Regions from separate parts of the Homo sapiens genome. Here regions 2, 3 and 4 are each linked to region 1. The links come from fine-mapping of genetic effects on gene expression. A gene starts in region 1. Each other region holds a variant in brackets. All regions are shown on one strand. Distances are between the middles of the regions.

The links. PIP is the estimated chance that this variant, and not a neighbour inherited with it, causes the effect.
Region 2: its variant is fine-mapped to the expression of HSBP1 in whole blood (INTERVAL, PIP 0.99).
Region 3: its variant is fine-mapped to the expression of HSBP1 in whole blood (INTERVAL, PIP 0.99).
Region 4: its variant is fine-mapped to the expression of HSBP1 in blood mononuclear cells (TOPMed, PIP above 0.99). The same link has a PIP of 0.9 or more in whole blood.

The regions. Positions count from the first base shown.
Region 1 is chr16:83,806,913-83,809,412 of GRCh38, reverse strand. HSBP1 (heat shock factor binding protein 1) reads right to left here and starts at 1,435. Exons shown (of 4, transcript NM_001537.4): 1 at 1,292-1,435; 2 at 667-733; 3 at 1-108. The coding sequence starts at 1,336. RefSeq lists silencers at 999-1,288, 1,306-1,482 and an enhancer at 1,140-1,641.
Region 2 is chr16:83,754,781-83,757,528 of GRCh38, reverse strand. All of the region lies in intron 11 of CDH13 (cadherin 13), which reads right to left. All of the region lies in intron 1 of CEDORA (CDH13 antisense oligodendrocyte and neuron associated lncRNA), which reads left to right. Among named protein-coding and RNA genes, the nearest start is that of CEDORA, 17 kb to the left of the region's middle. The variant C/A (reference allele first, on the strand shown) is at 1,129.
Region 3 is chr16:83,725,879-83,728,626 of GRCh38, reverse strand. All of the region lies in intron 10 of CDH13 (cadherin 13), which reads right to left. All of the region lies in intron 2 of CEDORA (CDH13 antisense oligodendrocyte and neuron associated lncRNA), which reads left to right. Among named protein-coding and RNA genes, the nearest start is that of CEDORA, 46 kb to the left of the region's middle. RefSeq lists an enhancer at 189-689. The variant ATG/G (reference allele first, on the strand shown) is at 1,351.
Region 4 is chr16:83,768,449-83,771,196 of GRCh38, reverse strand. All of the region lies in intron 11 of CDH13 (cadherin 13), which reads right to left. The region is part of intron 1 of CEDORA (CDH13 antisense oligodendrocyte and neuron associated lncRNA); the gene reads left to right. Among named protein-coding and RNA genes, the nearest start is that of CEDORA, 3.1 kb to the left of the region's middle. RefSeq lists an enhancer at 1,585-1,724. The variant A/T (reference allele first, on the strand shown) is at 1,642.

The DNA of each region.
Region 1 (2,500 bases):
GCGTGGCAGGTATCTTGTTTTCACTTTCCAGTTCTTCCACCCCAGCCTGTGTCATGAGGTCCGCGATATTCTTTTCCAGATCATCAATGCGACTACTCATATCATCAAGTGCTGAAGTTAAAGACAACGCGTGCCAACATCTCATTGAGCCTTTTTCCTCCCGTCCCTGCAGACTACAGCCTTAAACACAACGACTTTAGGGAAACTGGTCTTCCAATTTTCTTTCGACACTGTTACACGCTGGTGGGTAAGAGTACAGGACTGTGGGGCATGGCTACCCCGCATCGGATTCCAGCCCTGACCCTTACTAGTGATGGAACCCCTAAACCTCAATTTATTCATTTGCTAAAGATGATAACACTACAACCCACTCATAAGGTCATGCTGAGCATCAAAAGACACACACAAAAGCGCTTAGTTCACAGTGCATGGTCCACCACACCAGCTATTAGGATTGGTAGACGTATGCTCCTTGAGCCAGGAGTCTAACTCAGCTTTGCCCCTAGCTCTCGGCGCAGTCCTTCTCAGAAACACAGTACAATCCAAGCTCAAATTCTACAAGTGAATGGCTGAAGCTAGCCTGAAAACTACTCATTTATCCCCACCACTGCCCGGCAAATAGGCTCCAAAGGCCCACAGGAGGCCGACTGCAGATAAAAAGGATATTTCTCCCAATGATCTGGTCAGACATGGTCTGAAATTTATCTTGCATCTGCTGCAGGAGTGTCTGCACCTAAGAAAAACCGAAACAAACAAACACGGTCCACATCGATCCTGAGACAACTTCCTGGGATCAGGACGCAAGCCCTGGTCCCGGGGTTCCAGCCCCATTTCTGCCTCTGGACAGCTGTGCGGCCTTCAGCAAGATCTTCCTTCTCTGGGCTTCCGTTTTCCAACCTGTCCAATTAGACTGCTGGGCTGGGGAGGCCGCTGCGACTCAAAGCTCAGGGTCTTTAGGTTGTTTCTGCCGGGCTGGGGCACCCGGGGGTGTGTGAGGAGTTGAAGGGCGGGGAGGGTGTCAGAGGTAGGCGGGAGGGACCCGGAGGGCGTTCGCGACAGATGAATGGGGCTACTGGAAGGGGTCGGGCTTGGGGGCGCCCGCGGGGAGACTGGCCCGCACCGAGCGCCCCGGGGGTCAAGGTGGCCGGGAGCCTCGGCCAGAGACGCTTCCAGAAACGGGGCCTCGGCAGACGCCACGCGCGGCCGCGGTGGGCGCGCCTCTGTCCAGCAGGGCTTGGCCCGGCGCCGCCCGGGAAGGCCGCGGCCTCCGGCCCTCACAGCCGTCCCTTACCACCGAGGTGAGGTCCTGCACGGTCTTGGGGTCAGTCTCGGCCATCTCCCCGATGCCCAGCTTGGCGGTGATGTCTCAGACCGTAACCTACACTTCCGTTTGTCCGCTCAGTCGCCCCGGGCCGCTGCTTCTCGCGACGAGACTGGCAGCTCGCGGGACCGCGGGGCATTATGGGAGTAGTAGTTTCTCCCGCACCGGAAGGGCCTCGAGGCCGCGCGCTTCCGTTCCAAGGAGCGGCCCCACCCCACTCTCCCCGCCTTCTTTCGCATAGCCCCTCCCCTCCCTCTATGCCCCGCCCCTCACGCAGCGCGCCGTCAGTGGGGTGGAAAGTGAGACCAACTCAGAAATGGAGCAATAGAGGCAGGGAGTGGTCTTGGCCTCTCTTCCAGGCTGTAGTCAGTCGAAAGACGGCTCTGGGGTTTCTTTGGCCTGTCGGGACGAACTTACAGAACTTTTGCCCTTCAACAAGCCCCACTGTACCCTTGTAACTGCCCCCAAGCCAAGGAACATGACCCACCCCTACCCGCCCCGGGAGCCCCATGGCTCCTGTCCTGTTCTGTCATCTCCACCCTATGAAGGTGGCCAGCGTCTGGAGTTTAGCCCAGTAGGTTCATTGTGCCCGTCAGGTTCATATGAGGGGATTCAGACAGGAAGCTGTCCATCATGCCTGGCTTCTTTCACTCCACGCAATGCCTGCTGTTGAGTGGGGAAGGCTTCCGGCATCAGGGTTAGACTGTGGGTTTGGGTGTTGAAGGAGGTGGGCACTGCTGATTTGGAACCTCAAGTTCCAACCCCACAGGTGGTCTTTAGGATTGGGTCTCATGGCAAGGGGATAGGAGAGTCCTTGACTGCGGGCCTGGCATGTTCTGGAAACTTTCACACATCTCATTTAAGGACTGTGCTATGTGAGGGGTCAGCTCCAGTTTGACTTTAGCTAGGGAGAGGCTGTAAGGTGTTAGAGCTGTTACGGGAAAGGGTCCTGATCCAGACCCCAAGAGAGGGGGTTCTTGGATCTCATGCAAGAAAGAATTCAGGGCGAGTCTGTAAAGTGAAAGCAAGTTTAAGAAAATGAAGGAATAAAAGAATGGTTACTCCATAGACAGAGCCCTGAGGGCTGCTGGTTGCTCATTTTTATAGTTATTTCTTGATTATATGCTAAACCAGGGGTGGGTGATTCATGCCTCCCCTTTTTAGACTATATAGCGTAAC
Region 2 (2,748 bases), 52 kb after region 1:
TTGGTTCACTGCAACCTCCGCCTCCTGGGTTCAAGCGATTGTCCTGCCTCAGGCTCCCAAGTAACTGAGATTACAGGCACATGCCACTGTATCCAGCTAATCTTTGTACGTTTGGTAGAGACAGGGTTTTGCCATGTTGGCCAGGCTGGTCTCGATCTCCTGACCTCAGGTGATTCACCCGCCTCAGCCTCCCAAAATTCTGGGATTACAGGAGTGAGCCACCGTGCCCAGCCTGGATTTGTTGATTTTGTCTTGTATATTTGTTTCCTATTTTCTAGAATTTTCCTCTGAGCACTGGTTTAGTGCATCCCACAAGTTTTGACATTTCATATTTCTATTTTTGTTTTTGATTATGAGTTATTTGGAAGTGTACTGTTTTATGTTCAGTCAGTTAGGGTGTTTCTGGTTATATTTTGCTACTAATGCTTAGTTTAATTCCATTGTGATTGGAGGATATACTAGAAATAATTGCAGTTAAAAACGTTTGTTAGACTTTTCTATATGCTCTGCATGCAAACAATTTAGGTAATTTTCCTTGGGAATTTGAAAAGAATGAACTCAGTTGTTGAGTTCAGAGTTCTATATATGTTAGTTGATGAAATTTGTTAATTATTTTGTTCAAATCTTTTACAGCTTTACTCCTTGTTGTTTTTTCTTGAAGCTGATATGAGAGATGTTTTAAGACTCCCACAATGATTGTAGATTTGTCTACTTCTCTTTTTAGTTTTCTCTGCTCTGTATATTTGGAATCTGTGCTGTCCAGTACATACAGATTTAGGACTGTGATGTCCTTCTTTTTGATACCTCCCTTCATCATTATGAAATGGCCTCTTTACCTCTTGTCATGTTTCTTGTTTTAAACAGGGGTGTCCAATCTTTTGGCTTCCCTGGGCCACATTGGAAGAAGAATTGTCTTGGGCCACACATACAATACACTAACACTAACAGTAGCTGAAGAGCTATAAAAAAAGCGCCAAAAAATTTCATAATGTTGTTTAAAGAAAGTTTAAAAATTTGTGTTGGGCCGCATTCAAAGCCATTCTGGGCCACATATGGCCCACAGGCTGTGGGTTGGACAAGCTTGTTTTAAAAAATACTTTCATGTGTTTTTAGGAGAGACTGTACTAT[C/A]AAGGTATATTTTTCTTTTATTTCCATTCTTTGTTCTTTTATTTAAAGTGTGTCTATTGTATGTAGCATCCAGTTTGCTGATTTTTAAAAATAGTCTGATAATATTACTTGAAATATTTAATCTGTTTACATTTTGCATTTTACTGTGGTATAATTAGGTATATACTTACTGTATCACCTTGTTGTTCTATTTGGCCATCTTTTTAATGTTGTTCCCCCTCCTTTCTTATTTTGGATTAGTCAAACCTATTTCCTTCTATTAATTTGTTAGTTTTACTTTCTTTTATATTCTTTTAGTGATTACCCTAAGGGTTATACAATATAGATACTTGACTTATTAGAGTCTAATACAAAGTATTGCTTTAACTACATCTCCAATGCTGCAGAAACTGTTTTAACTATGTTTATAGCCTCTCACTTTTTCTGTTACTGCTGTCATGCATTTTAGTTCTATAAATATTTTTAACTCCTTATGTCCTTACAATTTTACTTCATTTACTTTTTTACTTTATACATATTTAACTTTCTATTTTTATTTATGTTTCTTGTGTTTCTATGCCTCTCTGGCATCATTTTCCCTCTGCCTGAAATATTCTCTTCAGTAAAAGGCATAAACCTGCTTGCAATACAATTCCATTTTTTTTTTTTTTGCCCCAAAAGTCTTTAATTCACCTTGATTTTGAAGGGAAAAATTTGAGAACTAAAGAATTCTAGGTTGGTAGGCATCTTTAAAGTGCTCAGAGAAATGTTATTCCATTGCCTTCCACATTCCATTATTTCTATCTAGAAGTCAGCCATAAGTCATATTGTAGCTCATTTGCAGGTAAATGCCTCTTTTATTCTCAGGCTATTTTTAACATTTTCTCTTTGATATTGTTTTTCATCAGTTTGATTTCAGTGTTTGAGGTGTGTTTTTCTTCAAATTTATCCAGCTTGTGGTTTGCTAAACTTTTTGATTTAATAGGGAGAATGTCTTTCATCAGTTTTGGAAAATTCCTGGACATTACATCTTCAAATTTTTTTTTCTGCTCCATTAGCACTCTCCTATCCTTCTGTAACTCCAATTCCACACACTAGTCTTTTGGCAGATTTTTTCCCGTTCTTTATCCTCACTGTGCTTCCCTTGTGGTGTTTGCTATAGATTCATATTCCAGGTTAAAAATCCTGTGTTCTGCTGTTAAGTCTACTTACTGAGTTTTTAATATGATAATATGTATTTCAGTTCTGGAATATCTATCTGATTCCTTCTTAAAGATTTCAGATCTCTTGTGTAATTCTCTCTGCTTGAATCTATCTTTTATTCTGTCTCCTTGAACATACTAATCATGTTTATTTTAATGTTCTTGTGTGCTAATTCAAATATCTGGATCCTCTGTAGTCTGATTTTTCTCTTGTTCATCACTTACACATTCTTGCTTCTTTACAGGTCAAGTAATTTTTATAAAACTGTAAATTGGGCATTATTAAAAAAAAGATTGGAGAGGCTCCAGATGACATATGGTGCTATGAGTTTTTCCCTCTCCTGTATTAGTCAGATAGGATGATGTATTAGTCCATTTTCATGCTGCTGATAAAGACATACCAGAGACTGGGCAATTTAAAAAAGAAAGAGGTTTAATT
Region 3 (2,748 bases), 81 kb after region 1:
AGAGACACGCTTATTTATCTTTGCTTTCTCTTCTCTCCAGGCTTCCATTGGCACTTGGTAAACACTGGTGACTGAGTGGGTAAATTACAAAGATGAGCATTTTGAATTCCTCTTCCAACAGAAGCTTTAATGTAGTTCTTATCAAGCCTAATTCACTCACTAAAAAGAATTGCATTGCACATATTGGCAGGAGCTATTGAACTGTTGTTTGTCAAGACCTTTTCTCCTCGTTTCATAGGGACTCAAACTAAATGTATCTTCACAACACACACACACACACACACGCACACACATACACATACACACATAGCCAGTGCCATTCAACTGTTAGCGAATCACACCGCTTACGGCTCACAGGCTTGTGGGGTCAGCCCGTGAGAACAGGCACCTTCTCTCCAGGGCCCAGTGTGCACATCAAAGACTTAAACCCTGTGGTCGAGGATAGACTCTGAGACAGAGACGTGGTGTGTGGCTCTGAAGCCTGCCCGCGGTGCTGTTCCCCCTTTCCAGGCAGCGTGCTCACTGCTGTCCACATCTGAGTATGTGTTGCCGCATAACAGACTCCTCAGAGGAGCTGTGGCTCTTTGTACAGTCACAGTTTTCAAAAGCTTTTGCCTCACAAAAGAAAAAGCAAAGCGCCTTCCCTCAGGCAGTTTTCAATTCTTCCCTCCAAATCCATCAGTCAAACTTGATACTTAAACCCTTGAATCCCAAAAGCTCCTTTGAGAAGCGAGCCCATTAGCAGCGGGCGGGAATGGCTGCCCTCCCCGCCAACGCCCCTGTTCACTCCCTGGGCTGCCCTGCTGTGACTGGTGAGCAAAGTTGTCAGCCAGTTCCGTCAAGGGATCTGTCATTCCCAAACCTGTTTGGTCCTTAGTCCTCCTGTCCTGAACACACAGGCCTTTCCTGGAGAGCTAGCAAGCCTAAGACTTTTTTGGCCTTTGAATGCAATTTTATTTTTTAGGGCTTCTAATGTTGATGTACTAACATTCTCGGCTTATAAAATCTCCAATGTTGATATTTCATTTAGTAAAACTGATATTTTTCTTTCTCAATGCGGGAAGGTTGGAAGGTTCTCCTTTGAGAACCCACTGCCGCAGTGGTGATCTCTGGAACAGGTGGATAGGTGTGCACTAAATAAAGCAAGCAGAAGAAGATGTGCTGGGAGAATCTCGGTGATGGGGCAAAGGGTGCTTGCTATAAAATTCTTCCAACGTTTCCACATGTTTGAAAACTGTTCTAAAGTTGAGAAAATACAATAAAATGATGAATGTGTCTGTTCTCTAAACACTCAGCAGCGTCCCTTCCCACGTAGATGTCTTTCTGCTACAAAACCATTAAGGATATCAC[ATG/G]TTAGCTGATTTCATTCCGATGAAATGTCCGTACTAGGCAAACCCACAGAGACAGGAAGCTGGTTAGTGGTCACTAGAGCAGTGGGGAGAAGGAAGCACGTTAACGGTTAAGGGGGATGGGGCTTCTCTTTAGGGTGCTGAAAATGTTCTAAAATCGAGGGCGGTGATGGTTGCACAACTCTGTGACTACACTAAAAACCATTGAATTGTATATTTTAAATGGGTGAATTGTACGGTATGTGAATTATATCTCATAAATCAATACAGCTGTTATACATGGGAAAGATAACTTCAAGGAAGGGAGGTATCCATGATTTCCAGGGCTGCTAAAACAGAACAAAACAAGGCACAAACCAAACACTCCTCCCTCGATAGTCTTCAGAATACTCTTGACTGACAGAACGCCAAAAAAGGACGGTGATTTTTTTTTTTTTTTGAGACAGAGTCTTGCTCTGTCGCCCCAGGCTGGAGCGCAGTGGCGCCATCTCCGCTCACTACAAGCTCCGCCTCCCGGGTTCACGCCATTCCCCTGCCTCAGCCTCGCGAGTAGCTGGGACTACAGGGGCCCGCCTCCACGCTCGGCTAATTTTTTTTTGTATTTTTAGTAGAGACGGGGTTTCACCGTGTTAGCCAGGATGGTCTTGATCTCCTCACCTCGTGATCTGCCCGCCTCGGCCTCCCAAAGGGCCGGGATTACAGGCGTGAGCCACCGTGCCCAGCCAACAGTGATGTTTTGATTTTTCTTCCATTTTTTGCCCGTTTAGCAAATACTCAACAAACAAAAGACGTGCAGAGTCTCCCCTGCAGGGCCTGCCTTCTTAGTGGCAATGGCTGCAGCAGAAGGGGCCAAGATAACGATTTGTCTGGAGAATGAACAAATAAATAAATAAATGAATGAATGAATGGACCCTATCTAGGGTCCTTGTTTCTCCAAAACCCGAACAGACACCCCGGTCTTGTCACAAACTTGGCCTGTGACCTGCAGCACATGACTGTCACTCTTGGGCCTCAGTTTCCCCATCTAAAAAACAGAGGTCATGTGAAATGATGGTCTCTAAGGTGCCTTCTAACTGATACATTATGACAATCTTTCCAAAAGCAATTGTTATTCAATGGCTGAGCAAAAAAGTTATAAAATTATCCCTTGTGGGAAGATTCAGACCAAGGTCCAGTTTTCTCTACATGAAAATGCAACACTTTACAATGTTGTGTAAGTGCAGAAAGTGAAAAGACAATCATTAAAAAGCTGAGAAAAATAAAGTCAGGAAAGAATGCTACATAAATCGCTCAGTCTGACTTCAAAGGGAAATTTTTTTCCAAAGTAAGATCATGAGAATTGATTTATGTCCTCAGAGCCAATGCAAATGCAGGATTTGTACAATATCCATTTATCAGT
Region 4 (2,748 bases), 38 kb after region 1:
GCAGGGTAATATGATTAATAAAAGGTGAAGATTTACGTAGAGGAATCGAGCACCTGTTATCATACAGTCTAGGAAAAGTCCAAGCAAACCAGGCAGGCTGTTGCTTTGAGCACATGGGGGTCTACATTCTAGTTTTTTCTCATTTTCTAGAAAAGAAAACTAGACACTCAGATTAAGGAAAATGTCCAAGGTGCTCTAACATTAGTGTGTCAGAGGCATTGAAATCAGAGCAACTCCATCTTGAATAGGTGCTGGGTAAAATGAGGCAGAGATCTACTGGGCTGCCTTCCCAGGTGGTTAAGGCATTCTAAGTCACAGGATGAGATAGGAGGTCAGCATAAGATACAGGACATAAAGACCTTTCTGATAAAACAGGTTGCAGTACAGAAGCTGGCCAAAACCCACCAAAATCAACATGGTGACAAGGGTGACCTCTCGTGGTCCTCACTACTGCACTCCCACCAGCACCATGACAGTTTACAAATGCCATGGCAACATCAGGAGGTTACTCTCTATGATCTAAAAAGGGGAGGCATGAATAATCCACCCCTTGTTTAGCATATCATCAATAAATAACCTCAAAAATGGGCAACCAGCAGCCTTTGGGGCTGCTCTGTCTACGGGGAGTAGCCATTCTTTTATTCCTTTACATTCCTAATATACTTGCTTTCACTTAATGGACTCGCACTGAATTCTTTCTTGCGTGAGATCTAAGAACTCTCTCTTGGAGTCTGGATCGGGACCTCTTTCCAGTCACAAGCATGTCACCTGTTTAAGAGCTGTGGCCCCCTGGCAGGGCATCCCCATCCCTGGAGCTTTCTGGCTATTCTATAAAGTGAATGGAATGCCTGGCAATTGTAAAGCACTTCCCCGTCCATAAGAGCCAGAGCCACAGAGCTCGAAGTTTGAGTATTTTGGTGCTTGTGGTTGGTACTAAACACTGGTAGAAAGGGTAAAAAACAGTTTCCTGTGCTTTTCTTACCTACATGGCCAACAGTATATTGCTTTGTGTGGGAAGCCTGTAGAACTGAACCAGGACTCCTCCAAGAAACATGAGCCACGCGTGGTTCTCCTGGCATTGCTTTGACGCTGTGGGTGTGGATGCAATGAGAAACAGGGTCAGGTTTTGAAACCATCCCCACAGGGTTGACGGGAATTGCATGCCAGGTTCTGGGTACAAATACAGTTATAATTCAGCGTTAATCAGGCTGCACCCTGGCCCAGTTCCTTGTTGCAGTAGGTCATGTACCGTAACCAAGTACCCTGATTTTTCTGAGGTGGTTTAATTACTTTTTTCTCTTCTCTTCTCCTTTCCCCTTTCAGCCTGCTTCCTACCTAGCCCTTTTTGAAATGCAAAATAACCTCTCACCTCCCCCTCACCACACATTCCCTACAAGGCAAGGTCATCTACGTGCCCCAGTGATCTCTTCTCCAGAATTGACAGTCAATTTGCAGATCAAAGCACATCTCCACGGAACTCCCACTTCTGGGGTGGCCTCAGGAGGACATGGTGAAAACACGCCCACTTGGCCACTTTTACAACTTATTTCTGCCCAGGAAGGCACCAACTCAACTGTATGCCAACTCAGCTGTTTGGTAGATAAGACACCAGGCTAGCAGGGGGACTTCCTGCCCTTGCTC[A/T]CTTCCCCTTTAACCTTATAAACATGTCTGCTTTTTGCTCCAAAGATGAAGCAGCACACTTAAAGCAGGACACTTTGTGTCTTTCCAAGCTAGCTTCAAAAATAAATTCACTTTTCTTGTACCAGGCCTGGATCTTGTTAATTGGACTCTGCTGCAGTGAGTGGCTAACCAGTTCCTCAGTTACAGTAGCACTAGATCCTGACATTTGCTTCCCCACCGTTCCCCTAGATAGGATCTCTGACATTAAGGCCAGAAGACTGTTTAAGAATTGATTTGCATCCCCATTGTTCCTATAGACACTTAAGATGTTTTTCAGACACACCTCCCCAGAATTCCAGCCACCAGTTGGAAGTCTCCCACAGGGGAACAGGATCAGCATGAGAACACAGCTGCTTCCTCTCCCCTTCCTATGACTTCACCCTGTACTCTTGATCTCCACACTTCTGCCCACTCCAAAGCCCTCAAAAACCCAAGCCTCAACTTCCTTGGGGAAATGGCTTTGAGGTTCCCTCCCATCTTCTCGTTCTGTGACCCTGTGGTCAAGGTGTTTGAACCAGAGCAACTCCATCTTGAATAGGAGCTGGGTAAAATGAGGATGAGACCTACTGGGCTGCATTCCCAGACGGTTAAGGCATTCTAAGTCACAGGATGAGATAGGAGGTCAGCACAAGATATAGGTTATAAAGACCTTGCTGATAAAACAGGTTGCAATAAAGAAGACGGCTAAAACCCACCAAGACCAAGATGGCGATGAGAGTGACCTCTGGTCATCCTCATTGCTACACTCCAACCAGCACCATGACAGTTTACAAATGCCATGGCAACATCAGGAAGTTACCCTATATGGTCTAAAAAGGGGAGACATGAATAATTCACCCTTTGTTTAGCATATCATCAAGAAAAAACTATAAACATGGGCAACCAGCAGCCCTTGGGGCTGCTCGATGTCGTAGCCATTCTTTTATTCCTTTACTTTCCTAATAAACTTGCTTTCACTTTACTCTGTGGACTAGCCCTGAATTCTTTCTTGCATGAGATCCAAGAACCCTCTCTTGGGGTCTGGATCATGACCCCTTTCCATTAACACTATGATTAAACCTGTTTCTC